Linked DNA regions of Homo sapiens. The protein of the gene in region 1 purifies or fractionates together with the protein of each later gene. This does not show direct contact. Each region holds a gene or a part of one and is shown in the gene's direction. Other genes may lie near its edges.

Region 1 (2,442 bases):
CCACCTACTCCCAAGAGCCTGACACCCATCCCTCTGCCCTCCACCTCTACCACTCCAGCATCCCATCCCTTCTCAATCTTTCCCCACAGCTGTCTACCTGTCCACCTGCAAGGATTCAAAGAAGGTACAGTGCTCCACCTCTCTGTATCTTTCCCTTGTCACTTTATCTCCTCATCCTATCTCAAAACCCATGGAGGGAGGCTGCTGGTGTGGTAGGCAGAACCTAGGCTTGGAATTCACACTGATCTGGGTTAAAACCTGGCACTATATCCTAACTGTAGGACTCTTTGAGCATGCTACTTAATCTATATGTTTCCTTGGGTGTAGGGATTTTAAAAAGTTACTTAGGCAGTGCTGTCCAATAGAAAGATAATGCAAGCCACATATGTAAATTTAAATACTCTAGTACTCACATTAAAAAAATAAGCAGAAACAGGTAAAATTAACTTAATAATATACCTTATTTAATCTAATAATTCTGGTCCCTTATCTGAAATGCTTGGGTCAGAAGTGTTTTTGGATGTTGGATTTTTTCAGACTTTGGAATATTTGCATATATTTAATATCTTTGGGATCAGACCCAAATCTAAACACAGAAATCATTTATGTTTCCTATACACCTTATACACATGGCCTGAAGATTTTTTTCCTTCTCTTTTTTTTTGAGACAGAGTCTCTGTCGCCCAGGCTGGGGTGCAATGGTGCGATCTCGGCTCACTGCAACCTCCACCTCCCAGGTTCAAGCGATTCTCCTGCCTTAGCCTCCCGAGTAGTTGGGATTACAGGCACCCACCACCACGCCTGGCTAATTTTTGTATTTTTAGTAGAGACGGGGTTTCACCATGTTGGTCAGGCTGGTCTCGAACTCCCGACCTCAGGTGATCCGCCCGCTGCCTTGGCCTCCCAAAGCGTTGGGATTACAGGTGTGAACCGCTGCACCCGACCACAATATTTTTAATAATATATGTGACCCATCACATGAGGGCAGCTGTGGGATTTTCCACTTGTGGCATCATGTTGGCACTAAAAAAATTTCAGGTTTTGGAACATTTCAGATTTTAGAGTTTTGGATCGGCGATGCTCAACCTGTACATCCAAAATATTATTGCAACATGTAAACAATATAAGAAATTACAGGCCGGGTGCGATGGCTCATGCCTGTAATCCCTGCACTTTGGGAGGCCGAGGCGGGAGGATCACCTGAGGTCAGGAGTTCAAGACCAGCTTAGCCAACATGATGAAACCCCATCTCTACTAAAAATACAAAAAATTAGCCAGATGTGACGGCACCTGTAATCCCAGCTACTCGGGAGACTGGGGCAGGAGAATCGCTTGAACCTGGGAGGCAGAGGTTGCAGTGAGCTGAGATCACACCATTGCACTCCAGCCTGGGTGACAAAAGGAAAACTTCGTCTCAACAACAAAAAAAAAAGAAAAAGAAATTACAGTCTTGGCCAGGTGCGTTGGTTCACGCCTGTAATCCTAGCACTTTGGGAGGCTGAGGAGGGCGGATCACCTGAGGTCAGGAGTTCAAGACCAGCCTGGCCAACATGGTGAAACCCCGTCTCTACTAAAAATACAGAAAAATTAGCCGGGCATGGTGGTGCACACCTGTAATCTCAGCTACTCAGGAGGCTGAGGCAGGAGAATTGCTTGAACCTGGGAGGTGGAGGTTGCAGTGAGCCGAGATCGCACCACTGCACTCCAGCCTGGGCAACAGAGTGAGGCTCTGTCTCAAAAAACAAAACAAAACAAAACAAAACAAATTAGCTGGGCATGGTGGCACACAGCTATAGTCCCAGCTACTTGGGGAGCTGTGGCAGAAGGATCGCTTGAATCTGGGAGGGTGAGGCTGCAATGAGCTAAGGTTGTCCCACTGTACTCCAGCCTGGGTGACAAAGTGAGACCCTGTCTCAAAAAAAAAAAAAAAAAAAGAAAGAAAAGAAAATAAATTGCAGCCCTTTTCTCACCTTAAGTATTCAAACACAGGTGTTTATTTTAAATAGTCAGCACATCTCAATTCGGACTAGCCACATATCAAATGCTCAATAGCCTAATGTGGGTGGTGGCTGTCATATTGGACAGCGGAGCCTGAGAGGACTTTTAGGAGGATTAAGGAAGACAGTGTATCTCCTTAAGAAGATGCAGGAGATACAGCACTCAGCAGTGTCTGGAGGGCAGAAAATATTAGCCTCATCCTTCTCCCATCATCTGTGCCCATGATAGTTTATATGTCTCTAAACTGACCATGTACACCTCAACTGCCTTTTAATATCCTGAATTCCTCACCACCTTCCTCTCTTCCAGAAAGCAGAGTGAGGGCACTCACTGCCATCCTGTGGAAGCCACCATCATCTCTGGCCCAAGCTTCTGTAGTAGCTCCCTAAAATAATACCCTATCATCTGCTCCTAATCCCTCCAATCTCTCTCCACTGAGTGGCT
Region 2 (3,500 bases), on another chromosome or scaffold:
TTTTTTTCTACATTTTCTATGATGAGTATGTAGTATTTTTAAATGGGAAAAAATGTATTCCAGCACACTGGGGAGGCAGAAGCAGAACAGTTTGAACCCAGGAGTTTGAGACCAGCCTGGGCAACATAGTAAGACCTCATCTCTACAAAAAGTTCAAAAAATTAGCCAGGTGTGGTGGTGTGTGCCTGTAGTCCCAGCTAATCTGGAGGCTGAGGCGGGAGGATCGCTTTAGCCTGGGAGGTCAAAGCTGCAGTGAGCTAGGATCGCACCACTGCAGTCCAGCTTGGATGACAGAGACAGACCCTGTCTCTTCTTAAAAAAAAAAAAAAATACATATATATATATATATATATATATATATATATATATATATTTCAAACAAACTTTAAGAAATTGTGCTACTCAGCCAGGTGTGGTGGCTCACACCTGTAATCCCAGCACTTTGGGAGGTCGAGGCGGGCAGATCACTTTAGGTCAGGAGTTTGAGACCAGCCCAGCCAACATGGTGAAACCCCGTTTCTACCAAAAAAAAAATACAAAAATTAGCTGGGCCTGGTGGCGCACACTACTCAGGAGGCTGGGCCGCAAGAATCGTTGAGCCCAGGAGGTGGAGGTTGCAGTGAGCTGAGATCACACCACTGCATGCCAGCCCGGGCTAGAGAGTGAGACTCTGTCTCAAAAAAGAAAAAAGAAAAAGAAAAAAAGAAATTGTGCTACTCACCACTCATCTGCAGCCCCCTGACCATGGCTGTCTCCATCAGTGCCACTGAAGTGGAGACAGCCCCGCTGAAAGCAGGCTCAGTTATCAAAGGGAGCAGAGACTGGGCGCGGTGGCTCACGCCTGTGATCCCAGCACTTTGGGAGGCCGAGGCGGGTGGATCACGAGGTCACGAGTTTGAGACCAACCTGTCTCTAGTAAAAGTACAAAAATAATCTGGGCATGGTGGCGTGCACCTGTAGTCCGAGCTACACAGAAGGCTGAAGCAGGAGAATTGCTTGAACCCAGGAGGCGGAGTTTGTGGTGAGGCGAGATCACGCCACTGCACTTTAACCTGGGCAACAAAGCGAGACTCCTTCTCAAAAAAAAGAAAAAAAAAAGCAGAAACTGGTTCAGCCTTGTTTAGAAGGGCAATTTGGAAATTTCTAAGGAAATTCTAAATGTGCAATATTTAAAATGACTCAGCACTTCCATACGCACAAAGATAGGGGTAGGGGAATATTCCCTGTGACACTGTTTGTGGTAAGAAAAGACAGACTCGGGCCCAGTTCCATCAGGGGGAATCTGGCTAAATTACAGAATTTCCGAGTGCTGGAACACTGCACAGCCATGAGAAAATAATGGCACTGGTTCAGATGTTAGCATTGTCCTGAGTGATTTCGGCAAAAAGAACTAACCCAGAATCAGGGGAGATGGCGTCTTGTCAAACTTTTTTATACAGGTAGAGAGTATAGAACTCATAAAAGCTATTTGTAAAATGATAAGTTTATTGGATTAGAAATCTAAGAACCAAGGCCAGGCGCGGTGGCTCACACCTGTAATCCCAGCACTTTGGGAGGCTGAGGTGGGCGGATCACCTGAGGTCGGGAGTTTGAGACAAGCCTGACCAACATGGAGAAACCCCGTCTCTACTAAAAATACAAAATTAGCTGGGTGTGGTGGCACATGTCTGTGAACCCAGCTACTGGGGAGGCTGAGGCAGGAGAATCACTTGAACCCGGGAGGCGGAGGTTGTAGTGAGCCAAGATCTCACCAGCAACAAGAGCAAAACTCCGTCTCAAAAAAAAAGAAATCTAAGAACCAAATATATCAGAGAATGTTAAATTTCTTGGGTATGATGATGATATTGTAGTTACATAGGGAAATATCCTTATTCTTAGGAGATACATGCTGAAATATTTAGAGCTGAAGTGCCATGTCAGCAACTTACTTTCAAAAAGTTCATTCAGCAAAAAGCCGGGTGCAGTGGCTCACACCTGTAATCCCAGCACTTTAAGGCAAGCTGATCACTTTGAGATCAGGAGTTTGAGACCAGCCTGGCCAACATGATGAAACCCTGTCTCTACTAAAAATACAAAAATTAGCCAGGCATGGTGGCACACACCTATAGTCCCAGCTATTCAGGAGGCTGAGGCAGGAGGATCACTTGAACTCAGGAAGCAGAGGGTGCAGTGAGCCAAGATCGCACCACTGCACTCTAGCCTGGGCAACAGAGCAAGACTCAATCTTAAAAAAAAAAAAAAAAAAAGATGTTAGGCCAAGCACAGTTCAAGCCTGTAATCCCAGCACTTTGGAAGGCCAAGGTGGGAGGATGGCTTGAAGTTACGAGTTTAAGACCAGCCTTGGCAACCAGCAAGACCCTGTCTCTTCAAAAAAAAAATTTTTTAATTAGCTAGGTGTGGTGGTACATGCGTGTAATCCCAGCTACTTAGGAGGCTGGGCAGGAGGATCGTTTGAGCCCAGGAGTTTAAGGCTGCAGTGAGCCATGATTGTGCCATTGCACTCCAGCCTGGACAACAACCATGTCTCTAAAAAAACAAAGGAGAGAGAGAAAAGAAAAGATTTTTGAAAGAAGCTAAAGACTTCTAAAAAAAAAGAAAAAGAAAAAGAAAAGAAAAACGATTACCAAGCACTTACTAAAGATGTTAGTTACAGGGCTGGGCACAGCAGCTCACGCCTGTAATTCCAGCACTTTGGGAGGCCAAGGCAGGAAAATTGCTTGAGCCCAGGAGTGCAAGACCAGCCTGGGCAACACAGTGAGACCCCACCTCTATTTAACAAAATGAAATCAATCAGTTTCAAAAGTTAGTCTTTATCCCTCCATACCTTCAGCCAGCCCAAACCAGGAATGGGCAGCTTGACAGCTTCAGGTTGTTGAAGGCCTGGACTCAACAAAGCTTTGCGTAGCTAGCGGGGCTGTTCTGAGCTTGGAAGCGCCGAGCAGTAACCTCTCCCTTTCCCGTGTCTTTGCTCTCCAGTTCCGAGAGGAACCCGTGCAATAGTTCGGTGCCGCGTGACCTCCGGCGGCCCGCCAGCCTCATCGGCCAGGAGGTGGTTCTCGTCTTCTTTCTCCTGCTCTTGTTGGTCTGGTTCCTGAATCGCGAATTTGAAGTCAGCTACCGCCTCCACTACCACGGAGACGTGGAAGCGGATCTTCACCGCACCAAGATCCAGAGCATGCGGGACCAGGCAGACTGGCTGCTGAGGAACATCATCCCCTACCACGTGGCTGAGCAGCTGAAGGTGTCCCAGACCTACTCCAAGAACCATGACAGCGGAGGGGTGATCTTCGCCAGCATCGTCAACTTCAGCGAGTTCTACGAGGAGAACTACGAGGGCGGCAAGGAGTGCTACCGGGTCCTCAACGAGCTCATCGGGGACTTTGACGAGCTCCTAAGCAAGCCGGACTACAGCAGCATCGAGAAGATCAAGACCATCGGAGCCACGTACATGGCGGCGTCAGGGCTGAACACCGCGCAGGCCCAGGACGGCAGCCACCCGC
Region 3 (2,400 bases), on another chromosome or scaffold:
ATGACTAATCTTGTATCATTAAGTAGTATGGGTCAGCAATATTTATTCAAAAGTATTAGTTAAGTACCTCCTATGGGAACATCGTCCACTTGTATATCTGCTGCAGTGCCTAGTATGCTGCAACTGCTATGTAAGTACTCACTGAATTGAATTATTTGTTTAACCACAAAAAACAAAGTGTGCCTGAGTTCGAATCCTATCCCCACCACTTATCAGTTGTGTGATCTGGAACAACTTACTTAACTTCTCTGCTTTCATTTCCTCATATGTAAGATGGAAAATAATAATACTATCAGAATTGATGGGAGTATTAAACCAGTAATATTTATAAAGCATGTAGAATAGAGCTCTGTACATAATAAGTATTATATAAACAATCTTATTGTTAATAGTGTAGTTCTTTGGATATTTGGATATTAAGATTTTTTAAATTCAAGTTTGCCCCAGTGATTGCGAATCTTTTTGTATATGTAATTGCAGTTTATGATGTCTCTGGAGCAGCAAGTGACAGAAATTGTGTGGTTCTCAGTGATATTCACATCGACATCATGGACTATATCCAGCCTGCAACTTGCACTGATGCAGAATTCCGTCAGATGTGGGCCGAATTTGAATGGGAAAACAAAGTTAGTCCTTGGGAGATTTTCTCATATTCCTTTATCTTTCTTCCTTTTGCCTGCTGTTGAGGAGTCTGCTAATAAAATTAATCTCGCTAAAAAGTGTTTAACATGAAAAGCAAATAGTCTTTCAGTATCTGTTCTTGCAAATTAGCCTTAACTAAAAATCATGTAAGTAGTTTGGTAATTTGCTGTTATAAATTGATTAGAGTAGCAGTTCTATAGCCAATCTGATAGGTTTAGACATTATAGGTAATATTCCATCCCTTCTATGTATGACCAAGAGCTTACCATTTAATCTAGTGCCCGAAAAAGGCTTTACAAAGTTCATGGTCTGTTGAGGAACTTTGTCCCTTTGAGCCTTGACTTTTATTAGAAATATTCTATATGAGGCTGGGCACGGTAGCTCGTGCCTGTAATCCCAGCACTTTGGGAGGCTGAGGCAGGCAGATTGCTCGTGCTCAGGAGTTCTAGACCAGCCTGAGCAAAATGGTGAAACTCCATCTCTACAAAAAATACAAAAATTAGCCCGGTGTGGTAGTCCCAGCTACTCCGGAGACTGAGGTGGGAGGATCACTTGAACATGGGAGGTTGAGGCTGCAGTGAGCTGAAATGACGCACTGCACTCTAGCCTGGGTGACAGAGTGAGACCCTGTCTCAAAAAAAAAAAGAAATATTCTATATGCTTCATATTGAATCTCTGTGAAGTTATCTCTATTGGGAAGTACTGATACCAACCTACAGCTTGTTGGATTTTATAGATGTTATTTAGTTTCTTGGTGTCTACTCTTTCCAACCTAAACAGTTGGAACAAGTTTTTAATATGACATACTGGTGATTCACAGCTTTCTCATAGTAAGATTTATGATCTCCTTGACTTTTTTTTCCTCTCTACAGGTGACAGTTAACACCAACATGGTTGATTTAAATGACTACTTACAGCACATATTAAAGTCAACCAATATGAAATGCCTGACTCCAGAAAAGGTAAAATTTGACTAGGAAATTCAGAAATCTGATGGAATGGTAGAGTAGGTTCCTGGCCTTCCTGTATTTCCTCTAGCACATTTTTGTTATTCAATATGCAGTACCATTCTAGGCTATCTAAAAGATGTTATCCCATAGAATGTTGGAATCTGCTTACCTCTTTCTATTGGACTATACCATCCTACTTTTTCCTAGTGCAGTGACCCAACTGAATAGTCAGATTAATTTTTTTTTTATTTTCTTTTCAATCTTCTCCCCCATTCAGCTAGAGGCACATTCTAAAGTAGTTTATGCTGCACATGGTGGTTCATTCCTGTGATCCTAGCACTTTGAGAGGCTGAGGCGGGCAGATCACTTGAGGTCAGGAGTTTGAGACCAGCCTGGCCAATATGGCGAAACCCCATCTCTACTAAAAATACAAAAATTACCCAGGTGTGGTGGCACGTGCCTGTAATCCCAGCTACTTGGGAGGTTGAGGCAGGAGAATCACCTGAACCCCAGGGGGTGGAGGTTGCAGTGAGCCGAGATCACACCACTGCATTCCAGCGTGGGTGACAGAGTGAAACTCTGTCTCAAAAAGATAAATAAAATCGTTTATTTGTAATACTGGATTAGAAAATGTCCATGAGCTCTTCCGTGGGCTCTGATTGTTGGTTAAAATATATGTGCTCAAATACAGAATCGTTGTTATACTGTGACTTTTTGCTATGTTTGTGTATGTATGAAAAAAACGAGAGAGAAAGAAAAATGAAGCTGGAGCTCTAAGGAACTTTTTTCTTTATGTAAAATTTCTATA
Region 4 (3,500 bases), on another chromosome or scaffold:
AACCTGACCTTGCAGACACCCACCATCCAGTCTCTGGCCTTCAAGCTGAGCTGTGACTTCTCTGGCCTCTCGCTGACCAGTGCCACTCTGAAGCGGGTGCCCCAGGTCAGAGGCTGCGGGTTGGGGGGTGTGGCCAGCTGCCCCGCCCTAGAAGTCCTCCAGGCATTTAAGGTCTGGACTTTCTTTAGGCTCCACTGTCTTCCTCCCCACACCCCACAGTCCAGGCTCTGCCCTAACTGGCAGTGAGTTGCCTCCTCTGTAAAATGGGGCTCATACTCGCTGTGTGAACTGTGGAAAGGGAGGTGCTTTATTGCCCCTGCAGGGCAGAATCTTCTTCCTGCTTTGGCTGGAGGCTGCCCGCTGCGGGAGGCGCTGTGGGAGAGGCCAGAAACCCTGGCTCCTTTTAGGACCCTGGGGTGATCAGCTGGATCCCTGGCAGGGGCTGGGGCTGGTGCTGGGGCTGGGTGCTGAGGTAGCTCCATCTTCAGGGGTTCAGTGGGTCAGGTAAACATCCAAAACTCAGGAACAGCATGGAGGGAAGGCCTGGGATCTTGGGAAGTTTGGGAGGAGATGCAGCCTGGGGGGAGAAGGTTCTGTGGGTGGAAACCCCAAGGAAGGTTTCACGGGGAGTGGGAGGCAGTGAAGGTGTTGGGGTCAGGTCTCCAGGTCCTGGTTGCCAAACAGCCTGTTTGCGACCCTCTGCAGGCAGGAGGTCAGCATGCCCGGGGTCAGCACGCCATGCAGTTCCCCGCCGAGCTGACCCGGGACGCCTGCAAGACCCGCCCCAGGGAGCTGCGGCTCATCTGTATCTACTTCTCCAACACCCACTTTTTCAAGGTCAGTGTGATGGCGGGCCAAGGAGGGTGGGTGCCGGCCCCTTCTTGGGATCCACTGCAGGTGCCCATGTCACTGCCTGGCCTCTGGGTGACCAGCACTGAGTGAGACCAACCAGCCATCTGTGCAATCCAAGCCAGCAATTGTCCCTCTCTGGGCCTCAGTTTCCCTGCCAACTTTAGCAGAATGGTAGGAAGGTATAATTACAATCTGCAAATAAGACCTAAGAAACCTACGATGTGCCTGTCGGTAGGCGGGAGACAGACAAGAAGGCACTTATTATTCCCTGCCCTCAGATAACTCTCTGTCTTGATGCCTAGACTAAGACCTTACAGATTTTTTTTTTTTTTTTTGGCAGAGTCTCGCTCTGTTGCCCAGGCTGGAGTGCAGTGGCATGATCTCGGCTCACTGCAACCTCTGCCTCCTGGGTTCAAGCAATTCCCCTGCCTCAGCCTCCTGGGATTACAGGCGTGTGCCATCATGCCCAGCTAATTTTCGTATTTTTAGTAGAGACCGGGTTTAACCACGTTGGCCAGGCTGATCTTGAACTCCTGGCCTCAAGTGATCCGCCTGCCTTGGCCTCCCAAAATGCTAGGATTATAGGCGTGAGCCACTGAGCCTGGCCTGATCTTAGAGATTTAATGTCAGCAGAAGGTTGATTATAGCCATAGAGATCCAGAGTGATGGATGAGTCAGGGTGGGGTTGGGGCTCTTCCCAGTGGGCAGTCCAGGGGAGTTTCTGGGGAAGGTGCCTTTCAACCTTGGCTTTGAAAGTGAGTGAGGATAGTGGTGAGGTGGAGGGCGTGAGGCTGGAATGCATTAAACGAATGGGAGGTGGAGCAGGGGGTGGTGAGAGGACAGCTTTCCACAGGGCAGAAACAGCACATGCAAAGGCTGGGAGGCTGGGAAGGCTGGGAGGCTGGGAGGCTGAGAAAGCTTTCACGCTGCACACGTGAAAGTCTTGCTGCTTGTTCTCATCCAGGGAAGCGGAGCTCAGACCTTACCCAGGGCCTCCCCATTTCCCCTCCACTCAGCCCTTCTCCTGCTGCCCTTCCAGGATGAAAACAACTCATCTCTGCTGAATAACTACGTCCTGGGGGCCCAGCTGAGTCATGGGCACGTGAACAACCTCAGGGATCCTGTGAACATCAGCTTCTGGCACAACCAAAGCCTGGTACTGCTGGGGGCGCCCCCGTTTCCACTGCACCCCTGCCCCTCTGTGACTCTCCTGTTGAACACTGGTTTGACTAGACCCAAACCTGTGGAACCATCTTGGAAATCCATCACACTTTGAAAATTCCTGCTCAAGAAATAAGAGAGAGAGAAGTTTTTACTCATGCATTTGTCAGAATTCTTTCAGTTGCAAGTAAGAAAAGACCACTTCAAGCCAGCTTGAGCACAGAGGGAACTGATTGGCACACATCCATGAAATGTCTAGAGGTGATCCACCAGCTTCAGACATAGCTGGATCCAGGGATGGATCTGATGCCCTTGTGGCTCAGTCTCTCTCCGTCTCAGCAATGGTCTCCTGTCTTGGCTGTCCATTCTGTGGCATGATGGATGCTGGAGAGCCAGACTTCCTTTCCCTCTTCCCATCAGGCTCTTCCCCCGACTCCCCACCCACAACCTGCCCCAGTGCAGATCAGGGTCTCAGGATCTTAAAGGTTCAGCTGGGTCACACATGTCCATCCCTGCACCTGTCACTGTGCCCAGGGGGATGGAATGTGTGGATTGGCCAGGCCTGGGTCACACGGCCCAGGGACTGGGGTGAAGGAGTGAGCTCCTAGGGTAAGTGCAGATGCTGATCCTGGAACAGAGACAGGGCTGCTTGTTGGGGGTGGGGGCAGAGTGGGGTGGTTCACAAGCCTCAGTGCCTCCATTTCTGGTTCCTGGCATTCCTGAAAAGCCCGGAGCCTCTGCTTTCTGGCTTCATCTTCCCTTCAGCTTCACCAGGACTGCCCTGCACTCTAAATTTCACCATCATCCTTTCCTTTCAGCTCTGGGCTTTTGCCACTATGGTTCCCTCCACCTGGAATGCCCTTGCCCTACTCGTGTTGAAATCCAACACGTCCTCTAAGGGTTCAGGGCCCCCACCTCCCCTTCTCCCTTTGGGTCAGCTCTGCCTACCCTCCATGGTCTTCCGTGACTACCTGTGTCATTTCCTCCACTTCTCCACCCACGTGGCTTGGCATTAGGGTTGTCTGTGGATGAGTCTCCCCCAACCAGGCGTGGGTCTGAGCACATTGCTGTTCCCCATGGGGAGGAAGGGAAGGGATCAGCTGGTTATGGAGCGCCTACTGTATAAAAGGCCAGAGCTGGACACTCAAGATTCCGTGTTGCCCTTTGTTTTTCCACCATTGTTGTAACATGGGTACGAATGATCCTATTCTGTAGATGACTAAACTGAGGCTCAGAGCAACTTGGTGTCTTGCCTGGGTCACTCTGAGAGCCCACAGTGGAGGTGGGACAGGAATCTGAGACTGTCTGAAGCCAAAGGCCAGCCAGTGCCTGGTAAAATGTTGGCAAATGTGCAGTTGAGTCACCGTTGGCCCCCAGGACTCCCAGACACTGATCTGCAGCCTTTCCTCTGCACCCTATGACTGACCCAGCATCTCCACCCAGGAAGGCTACACCCTGACCTGTGTCTTCTGGAAGGAGGGAGCCAG

The links.
Region 2: the proteins of TAPBP (region 1) and ADCY9 purify together in Homo sapiens (co-immunoprecipitation; one large-scale study listed by IntAct). This does not show direct contact.
Region 3: the proteins of TAPBP (region 1) and COPB1 purify together in Homo sapiens (affinity purification with western blotting, with the first as the bait; one study listed by BioGRID). This does not show direct contact.
Region 4: the proteins of TAPBP (region 1) and ADGRG5 purify together in Homo sapiens (co-immunoprecipitation; one large-scale study listed by IntAct). This does not show direct contact.

What each region holds. Positions count from the first base shown.
Region 1 is NC_000006.12:33,301,637-33,304,078, reverse strand, and holds part of TAPBP (tapasin isoform 1 precursor), read left to right. Parts: intron 1-89; coding exon 90-124; coding exon of another isoform or gene 125-304; exon of another isoform or gene 305-473; intron 474-2,307; coding exon 2,308-2,319; coding exon of another isoform or gene 2,320-2,387; 3' UTR 2,388-2,442. UniProt on the Homo sapiens protein: Involved in the association of MHC class I with transporter associated with antigen processing (TAP) and in the assembly of MHC class I with peptide (peptide loading).
Region 2 is NC_000016.10:3,966,443-3,969,942, reverse strand, and holds part of ADCY9 (adenylate cyclase type 9), read left to right. Parts: intron 1-2,976; coding exon 2,977-3,500. UniProt on the Homo sapiens protein: Adenylyl cyclase that catalyzes the formation of the signaling molecule cAMP in response to activation of G protein-coupled receptors.
Region 3 is NC_000011.10:14,459,412-14,461,811, reverse strand, and holds part of COPB1 (coatomer subunit beta), read left to right. Parts: intron 1-480; coding exon 481-626; intron 627-1,514; coding exon 1,515-1,604; intron 1,605-2,400. UniProt on the Homo sapiens protein: The coatomer is a cytosolic protein complex that binds to dilysine motifs and reversibly associates with Golgi non-clathrin-coated vesicles, which further mediate biosynthetic protein transport from the ER, via the Golgi up to the trans Golgi network.
Region 4 is NC_000016.10:57,563,143-57,566,642, forward strand, and holds part of ADGRG5 (adhesion G-protein coupled receptor G5 isoform 1 precursor), read left to right. Parts: coding exon 1-105; intron 106-705; coding exon 706-837; intron 838-1,891; coding exon 1,892-2,008; intron 2,009-2,146; exon of another isoform or gene 2,147-3,456; coding exon 3,457-3,500. UniProt on the Homo sapiens protein: Orphan adhesion G-protein coupled receptor (aGPCR). Ligand binding causes a conformation change that triggers signaling via guanine nucleotide-binding proteins (G proteins) and modulates the activity of downstream effectors, such as adenylate cyclase.